Regions from separate parts of the Homo sapiens genome. Here region 1 is linked to region 2. Evidence: fine-mapped expression QTL. A gene starts in region 2. The other region holds a variant in brackets. All regions are shown on one strand. Distances are from middle to middle. Region 1 has its middle 2.3 kb from the start of CTSS. Region 2 holds the start of ARNT (aryl hydrocarbon receptor nuclear translocator).

Evidence for each region. PIP is the estimated chance that this variant, and not a neighbour inherited with it, causes the effect. A credible set is the group of variants that fine-mapping cannot tell apart.
Region 1: its variant is the best candidate, but not a certain one, in a credible set for the expression of ARNT in prefrontal cortex (GTEx, PIP 0.80).

Annotation. Positions count from the first base shown.
Region 1 is chr1:150,765,873-150,770,271 of GRCh38, forward strand. No RefSeq gene overlaps it. Among named protein-coding and RNA genes, the nearest start is that of CTSS, 2.3 kb to the left of the region's middle. The variant G/A (reference allele first, on the strand shown) is at 2,010.
Region 2 is chr1:150,874,649-150,879,047 of GRCh38, forward strand. ARNT (aryl hydrocarbon receptor nuclear translocator) reads right to left here and starts at 1,951. Exons shown (of 22, transcript NM_001668.4): 1 at 1,895-1,951. The coding sequence starts at 1,919. It also overlaps a transcript of LOC107985204 not described here. RefSeq lists enhancers at 1-16, 17-516 and silencers at 1,577-2,006, 2,010-2,283.

The DNA of each region.
Region 1 (4,399 bases), 110 kb before region 2:
CTAGCTAGTACAGTCACCTCTAGTCATTTCCCTATGGTCTTGGGGACAAAGTGGATACAGTAAGCCATCAAGAAGAGCCCTTGTCTGAGCCCAGTGGCTCATGCCTATAATCCCAGCACTTTGGGAGGCTGAGGCGGGAGGATCACTTGAGGCCAGGAGTTCAAGACCAGCCTAGGCAATATAGTGAGACCCTGTCTCTGCAAAAAAATTTTTTTTAATTAGCTGGGCATGGTGGTGCATGCTTGTAGTCCCAGCTGAGGGGGAGGGTGAGGTGGGAGAATTGCTTGAGTCTAGGAGGACAAGGCTGCAGTGAGCCATGATTATGCCACTGTGTTTCAGCCTGGATGACATATCAAGACCCTATCTCAAAAAAAAAATTAAATTGAATTTTAAAAACACCAACTTTTACATGGAAAACATTTAGTTATAAAGAGATTTAGATAAAGCTCCCCAAATCCCAGCTCCTTGTATGATTTCCTAGGAAAACCTGTCTTACTGCTTTTAACACAACTCATTCATGATCTGATATTGTCTGGTTCTCACTCAGCCATTCCTTCGTTCATCAAACTCAAAATGTCTTTATTAATATATACTATATGTATAGTTTAGTAATATGCGTGTGTGTGTGTGTGTGTGTGTGTATGTGTTAGTATATTCATGGAAAAAAGGATACACTCAAATATATCCAATTGAGAATGATTACCTGGGTGGGGTGGGAGCAAGACGAACTATCATCTTTTAAATTTGCATTTTCCTAATTACTAATGAGGTTGAGGATCTTTTCACACATTTATTGACCGTTTGAATTTTCTGTGAATTTCCTGTTCATCTTTTTTGCTCATTTTTCTATTGTATTGTTGCATTTTCTTAGTGATTTGTGGGAGGTGTGTGTGTGTGTGTGTGTTGTGTGTTTTCCGAGACGGAGTCGTGCTTTGTCTCCCATGCTGGAGTGCATTGGTGCGATCTTGGCTCACTGCAACATCCACCTCCCAGGTTCAAGCGATTCTCTGCCTCAGACTCCCAAGTAGCTGGGATTACAGGCACCTGCCAGCATGTCCAGCTAATTTTTGTATTTTTAGTAGAGACAGGGTTTCACCATCTTGGCCAGGCTGGTCTTGAACTCTTCACCTCGTGATCCACCCGCCTCAGCCTCCCAAAGTGCTGGGATTACAGGTGTGAGCCACCGTGCCCGGCCAAGGTGTATGTGTTTTAAAAATATATTCTGGCTTCTAATCTTTGACAGTTATATACCCTTAAAAACATCCTCCCTTAGTCTTCCACTTGTCTTTTATTTTATTTTTTCTTCCTTTGCATAAGCCTATGAAATTCCACTTGTCCTTTAGTCTTGTTTATAGTGAGTTTTTCTATATGAAATTTTTTTATGTTGAGGTAGAACATTTTATTCAGCTTTTCCGTATAATCAATCTATACTGTTTTTGTATAAGAAAATTTTCCTCATCCAAATGTAATAAAGATACACTCATCTTATTTTTATACTTTCAGAGAGTGTTTTATTTATCTTTTCTATGGCTACTGCTTTTAGGTGTTTAATTCACCTGGAATTTAGTTTTGTGTATGGTATGACGTAGGGAGCTTATTTTCTTTGTTTTCCAATTTTGATTCTACCTCTATTGTACACCAAATTCTCATACATAGATAGGTCAGTTTCTGAGCTCATGAAGCTGTTCTTTTTATCTTTTGCTACTTCAGTATCACACAGTTTTAATTAAAACAGCTTTGTAATATGTCTCCACGTATGGTAAGGCAAGTCATCTAGGCCACCCTATCTTTGTTCTTCTTTTTAAACATTGTCTTTGTATTTTGTACTTGTTAACTCTTCTTTATATGAATTTTTTGAATCAGTTTATCAAGTTCCCTGAAAAACTCTGTTGGAGTTTTTTGCTTTTTTCTTTTGGAGACAGGGTTTCATTCTGTCACCCAGGCTGGAGTGCAGTGATGCAATCATGGCTCACTGCAGCCTTGACCTCCTGGGCTCAAGTGATCCTCCC[G/A]CCTCAGCCTCTGGAGTGGCTGGGACTACAGGTGCACACCACCATGCCTGGCTGATTTTGTTTTTTGTTTTTTGTAGATAAGGGGTTTCACCATGTTGCCCAGGCTGGCCTCAAACTCCTGGGCTCAAGCAATCTGCCCACCTTGGCCTCCTGAAGTGCTGGGATTACAGGCATGAGCCCCCACATCTGGCTATTAGAGTTTTTATTTGAATATATGCATAAATTTAGGGAGAAGTAACATCATTATAATGTTGATTCATCTCAGCTGTAGTAGACATGTTTGTGTTTGTAGCCATACAGTTTTTTTTAAAAAGATACTGCTTATGGAAAATTTAAAACACATGTAAAAGTAAAAATAGTAGTAAAATGAGCTGCCGTGAAACCATTGTCTTGTTTCAACAATGATCAGTACATGGCCAATCTTATTTTATTTATATTCCCACTCTCACTACCTGAATTATATTAAATAAATTCTAGACATTCTGTCATTTCATACGTAAATGTCCCTGTGTGTGTCTTTAAAAGACAGAGACTATTAAACAAATATAATACCACAATACCATCATCACATCTAAAATAAATGAACAATAATTTTCTTTTTTTTTTTTTTCTGAGACAGAGTCTCACTCACTTGCCCAGGCTGGAGTGCAGTGGTGTGATCCCAGCTCACTGCAATCTCTGCCTGCCGAGTTCAAGCGATTCTCCTGCCTCAGCCTCCCAAGTGGCTGGGATTACAGGCATGTGCCATCACACCCAGCTAATTTTTGTATTTTTAGTAGAGATGGGGTTTCACCACATTGGCCAGGCTTGTCTCGAACTCCTGACCATAGGTAATCTGCCCACCTCAGCCTCCCTAAGTACTGGGTTTACAGGTGTGAGCCACTTTATTGTCATAAGAAATTAAGACAATAATTTCTTAATGTCATCAGACATCCTATCAATGTTCACATTTTCTGGACTGTCTTATACATTTTTTAATAGTTTGTTTGAATTGAGATTTAAATAAGCTCCATATATTGTGAAACCATTGAGTTATGTTTATATCATTATGAATTCATGGATTTAAACATATTTGATGTGTTTCAATCCATTCCAGTTTTATCCTTATTGATACTCATATTGTCTCATTTTTGGTCTGTAGGAATTTATTCAAACTGGCTCTTTGGTGCAGACAGAGTTTGTATATTTGGCATAATATTAGTACTCTTTAAAAGCTTCCTTTCTTTCTAATATGACAGGCTATTGCAGGTTTGTCTTGAACAATTCCTGCCCCAGACCTGGAATCAGCCATTTCTCCAAGGAGCTCTGGTTCCTTTTAGTGGAAACAATGTTTAAATACCATAATCTAGGAACTAGCAGTGTTTGGGATAGCAGATTGACCATTGTTGCTAAGCCTTTTCAGTAGCTAGAGCTAAGAAATATCTTTTTTAAAAAAATTAAATAAATCACAAGCTGACACTGATACTTCAAATTCAAATTCAAGACTATAGGGTTTACTCACCCCATCAATCTTATATCTGCACTTCTTTTCAAACATGCTTAAAAAATCTGGGTTCTCTAAAATATCAACTCAAGTACTTGTTTAATTTATCCTGTAAAATTGCAGAATAACAACAACAAGCCTACGCCAATAAGATTGTTAATGAAAACAAATTAGAGGTTTTAAAGTGGAGGGGGACAGGTTTTTCTCCATTAAGCCAAATGTCGCTAACGATGTAAGTCAATTACTGTGTTTTGAAGTCACCTGGAATAGTTCCCTGTATGGTTATGCTCCACCTCCATACACAGGTTTATTTGTTTCATTTCACTTCTTCCTTTTAGGGCTTGCTTTTTACACTTATGTAATTTCATTTTATAATTATGTAAAACATTTATGTGGATCCAAAGTGAAATCATCACAATGAGGTATATTCAAAGAACTCTAGCCTCTACTTTTGTCTGTTTTACACGATTTCCTTTTTTCCTTAATTGGTAATCATTTAAAAAATTTATGGTTTATCTTCCTATTTTTAGAAATATGCAAATATGCCTATATATTAATATTCTTTCATCTTAAGTGAACACTAACATATTACACATATTTTTCTCTATCTTGTTTTTTTCACTTAGCATTTTTTTTGTTTTAGTCAATCACTTAACATTTTATTAAGAAAAATTATTCAGGCGAAAGACATTAGCAGGTGTCCTTTCAGTGATGTGCTGGGTATTATTTAGTGGACCTTTACAGGAATTGTTTGATTCTTTTTAGAGTTAAGTTGTAAAAAACTGATAACTATGCAAATGATCCCTATACATGGCAATGCAAATAAATTTTGTATTGTAGATTTCACTGAATAGAGAAATAGAGAATGTAGATCTCTGTCAGTCGAATTCTTTTTTTTTTTTTTTTG
Region 2 (4,399 bases):
CTGCACTCCAGACTGGGCGACAGAGCAAGGAGCAAGACCCTGTAGCAAAAGAAAAAGAGGGGAGAGGGGACAGGAGAGAGGGGAGAGGAGAAAGGAAAACAAAGAAAAAGAAAAAGGAAATCTAAAAATTGCAGAAGCAAGCAGCCAAAGCATAGTAAACAAAGCTGTTTCATTAACAAGGATTCTGCACACACACATACACACTAACATATGCTATTTTCTGCTAAGATTTAAGCTGATATTGATCAGCTTATGAAAATATGGTCAAGAGGCTGTCATTCTGGTTGCTGTTGTTCAAAAAACAAAACAAAATAAAGCAACCCCACCCACACAGCTGGAAAAAAGCTTCTGACATATGAACTAAAACTTGTTTACCCAGGCCACTTCTTAATAAGAGAAATGCTTTGCAATTTAACTAGGGTTATATAAGTATTTTGCAATGTGTGATCAGTTAAAAATCTTGTTTATTTATTCCATAGTTCACAGATAGGTTATATTACTACAAGGTCAGGTTTGACATAACGGCATTTTTCCTGTTTTATAGTTTTATTCTATCACTCAGCACTTCCTGCAATGTAATTTTTGCGATTAATTTTACCTCCCTTTCCTTCAAAAAAAATTTAAAAGATTAAAAAAAAATGACGTGACAAATTAACCATTTCTTAAAATAGCTATTCCCAGAAACACGGTAGAAAAGAAATTTCAGTGATTCAACTGTCCTATCAAAATCTGGATATTGCAAAATCATACTGCCTTTCAGTAACATGAAAAAAAATCTAATTTAAATTTCAACGTGGGGATGGGGGTAATCACTCCTACTGTTTTATTTTCAAGAAATTCTCCGCCCCACGCAACACACACACATATCTCAAGGCCCTTTTTAAGGCTATCAAATATATTGGTTTTTGGAAAAGGATAGACTTTATTTGGCAAGAATAACCAAGGTCTCCAAGATAAACTAGACCCCTAAAATGAAATGCCTTCTAAAGAGGAATAACTGTAACATAGAGGAAAGAGGGCTGGGACTAGTAATTTGAAGATCTGATCTCTCTAGAACTGCACTACACCCTACTCCATCTCTTAGACAAAACAGACCAAACCTTTTTGATATTTGATTATTTTTTGAAATTGAGAAATGGTGTGGAATCAAACTTTTCTGAAAGAGTTTGGAAATTGCCTCGACGTAGGCCTAACAAGATTTAAACCTGGGGCTGTGGAACTAAAGACCTGTCCGGAACCATAACCATTACACAAACCCCTGCCCTCAGCAGGCAAAGACCTACAGGCCCTCTTAACACAAGATCTAAGTTTCAAAGTATAGTCCGGGGACGGAGACGGGGACGGGGGTTGCGGGTGGGAGGTAACAGCCTAAAGAAACGTCGTATATATCAAAGAATGTCCATTTTTTATTTTTTAAATTAAAATCTAAACCTTTAAATGTTTGGAAGCAACGCCTCAACTAAAGAGCAGTGTGGTCCAGGGTTTATGAATCCAAACTACTCTTAAAGTAAACCGAGACACTCTGCCTACAGTTTTCGGCATCAAGCGGCTCCAGCGGGCAGAGGGTTAAAAGAGGACCACATCACAGACCAGACGCCGACCGAGGAGTGAGGGCGGGCCAGCCCCGCACTGGCTGCCGCTCCAACGGAGGTCAGGACAGGGAGCCCCCCTCAACTCCCACCTGCCCCCTCGCTCCCTTGGGTATACTCGAGTCTACCCAAGTCCCCGGGATCGGGCCCCTCCCCAGGTCACCGCTCCCCCACCGTCTCTCGCGGCCCCCGCCCCGCCCCGGCGCCTTCAGCTCCAGCTGCGTCCCCTCAGCCCTGGGTCTCCTTAGTTGTCAGCCCCTTCGGCCCCTCCCCTTTAGAGGCGCCCCAGTCCTCCGTCTCCTCACCGGGGTTGGCAGTAGTCGCCGCCATGGCCGCAGATGCCACCGCCGCCGCGCCACCCCCCCCCCCAGTGGGAGGAGCCGCCGCCACCGAACCGGGAGGGAGGGGAAAAGAAAGGCCACTCCCCAGAAGCGGCGCCTGACCGCCGCCTCCGCTACCGCGGAATCCAAGATGGCGGCTTCAGCAGCCCCCAGCATCCCAGCCCCTGCGGCGGGGAGACCCCGCCTATATAGTAGGCGGAGTCAACACACGGCCAGCCTCCTAAGAAAAATTGACCAATGAAAATGCCAAATCGTCCAAGGGCAGGGCTACTCACTGCGCCAGCCAGTCCAGTGAAGGGAGGGCGAGGAAGAAGTCCAGCTGTCTCCCTAATCTCGCCCTCCTTGCGTAAGAGGTCAATGACCGAGTAACGTCATTGAAATGCAATTAAAATGGGTATTTTAGGCTGGGCGCGGTGGCTCGCGTCTGTAATCCCAGCACTTTGGGAGGCCGAGGCGGCCGGATCACCTGTGGCCAGGGGTTCGAAACCAGCCTGGCCAACATGGCGAAACCCCGTCTCTACTAAAAATACAAAATTAGCCGGGCGTGGTGGCGCATGCCTGTAATCCCAGCTTCTTGGGAGGCTGAGGCAGGAGAATCGCTTGAACCTGGGAGGCAGAGGTTGCAGTGAGCCGAGATAGCGCCACTGCACGCCAGTCTGGGCAACAAGAGCGAAACTCCGTCTCAAAAAAAAAAAAAAGGATATTTTACTAAAAACCTTCGCTTGGTGGTGGATTCGTCTGAGTGGTTGCCGTGCAGACAATGTATCTTGTAAATCCTCTTTAGGTGCTAAAGAGCACCTAAACATCACATGGTGATTTGTAATCCTTTCCAGTTTTTTTCCTCTTTTAAGGACTTTTGTCCCTGGTGAAAAAGTTAAATGACTAACTTTTGAATGCCTGCTATGGAACCGGTAGTCTAAAAGGATCCAGGTGTTAACGGTTTGGTATGGGAGATATTGCCAGCCAAAATTGGAGGCAATAGATGAAGAAAGTAATTTGAGAATGGGTAACTTCTTTGGTCAGTGACAGGGACAGAGTGAGGAGTTTTGTTTGTCTGTTTTTGAGACAGAGTCTCTCTCTGTCGCCCAGGCTGGAGTGCAGTGGCGCAATCTCGGCTCACTGCAACCTCCACCTCCCCGGTTCAAGCAATTCCCCTGCCTCAGTCTCCTGAGTAGCTGGGATTACAGGCGCACGCCACACGCCTGGCTAATGTTTTTTGTATTTTTAGTAGAGATGGAGTTTCACGACGTTGGCCAGGCTGGTCTCGAACTCCTGACATCAGGCAATCTGCCCGCCTCGGTCTCACAAACTGTTGGGATTACAGGCGTGAGCCACCACACCTGGCCAGTGAGGAGTTTTTAATAGGGAATCAATAAGATGATGGCTGTGCAGATTTATTTTCTTTTTTCTTTATTTTTTTCTGAGACGGAGTCTTGCTCCATCACCCAGGCTGGAGTGCAGTGGTGCGATCTTGGCTCACTGCAACCTCTCCCTCCCGGGTTCAAGCAGTTATCCTGCCTCAGCCTCCTGAGTAGCTGGGATTACAGGCGCGCACCACCACGCCCGGCTAATTTTTGTTTCCTGGTAATAGGAAGCATTGAGCTATTCGAGGTAGGCACTGTCCAAAATGCTTTATATGTATTTACTCATTTAATCCTCACAACAACGATGAGGTAGGTTCTACTGCTATTTCCATTTTGCAATTAAGGAAACAGAAACAAAGAGGGTAAGCAAGGGACATCCAGCAGGTAAGTAATGTGGGAGGCAAACTAAAGGAGTCTGACACTGGAAACCTGTTCCACCCATCCCCCTATTTTAGCACTACAATTTTAGCACTACAAAGTACTTCCATTTTCATGTATCGCTCACAAAATGTTTAATACAAATTTAATTAAAATTTTAACAAAAATCCCATTATGCTATTGAACAGCTTTGCATTCTTAGAAGTTGTATATGTACTGCGCAGATTACATTGATCCACTTATTTAGTTTACTGCAAAGGTATTTTAACATAATTTACATATTATTGTTTACATCTGTTAAAATTTCATTTTTCTTTCATTTTGTTGTTATATTTATAAGTCACCAAAAAGAAAAAAATCATCCACCCAAAAGAAATACATTGGCTGGGCTGGGCGGGGTGGCTGTAATCCCAGCACTTTGGGAGGCCAAGGAGGGCGGATCACAAAGTCAGGTGTTCGAGACCAGCCTGGCCAACATGGTGAAACCCCATCTTTACTAAAAATACAAAAATTAGCCGGGCATGGTGCCGCGTGCCTGTAATCCCAGCTACTCCGGTGGCTGAGGCAGGAGAATCGCTTGAACCTGGGAGGCAGAGGTTGCAGTGAACCGAGGTGCCCCTGCACTCCAGCCTGGGCGACAGAGCAAGACTCCATCTCAAAAAAAAAAAAAAAAAAATGCTGTAGCTTCTTTACCAAGTAAAATGGATTTTTCCAGAATAAATGCAAA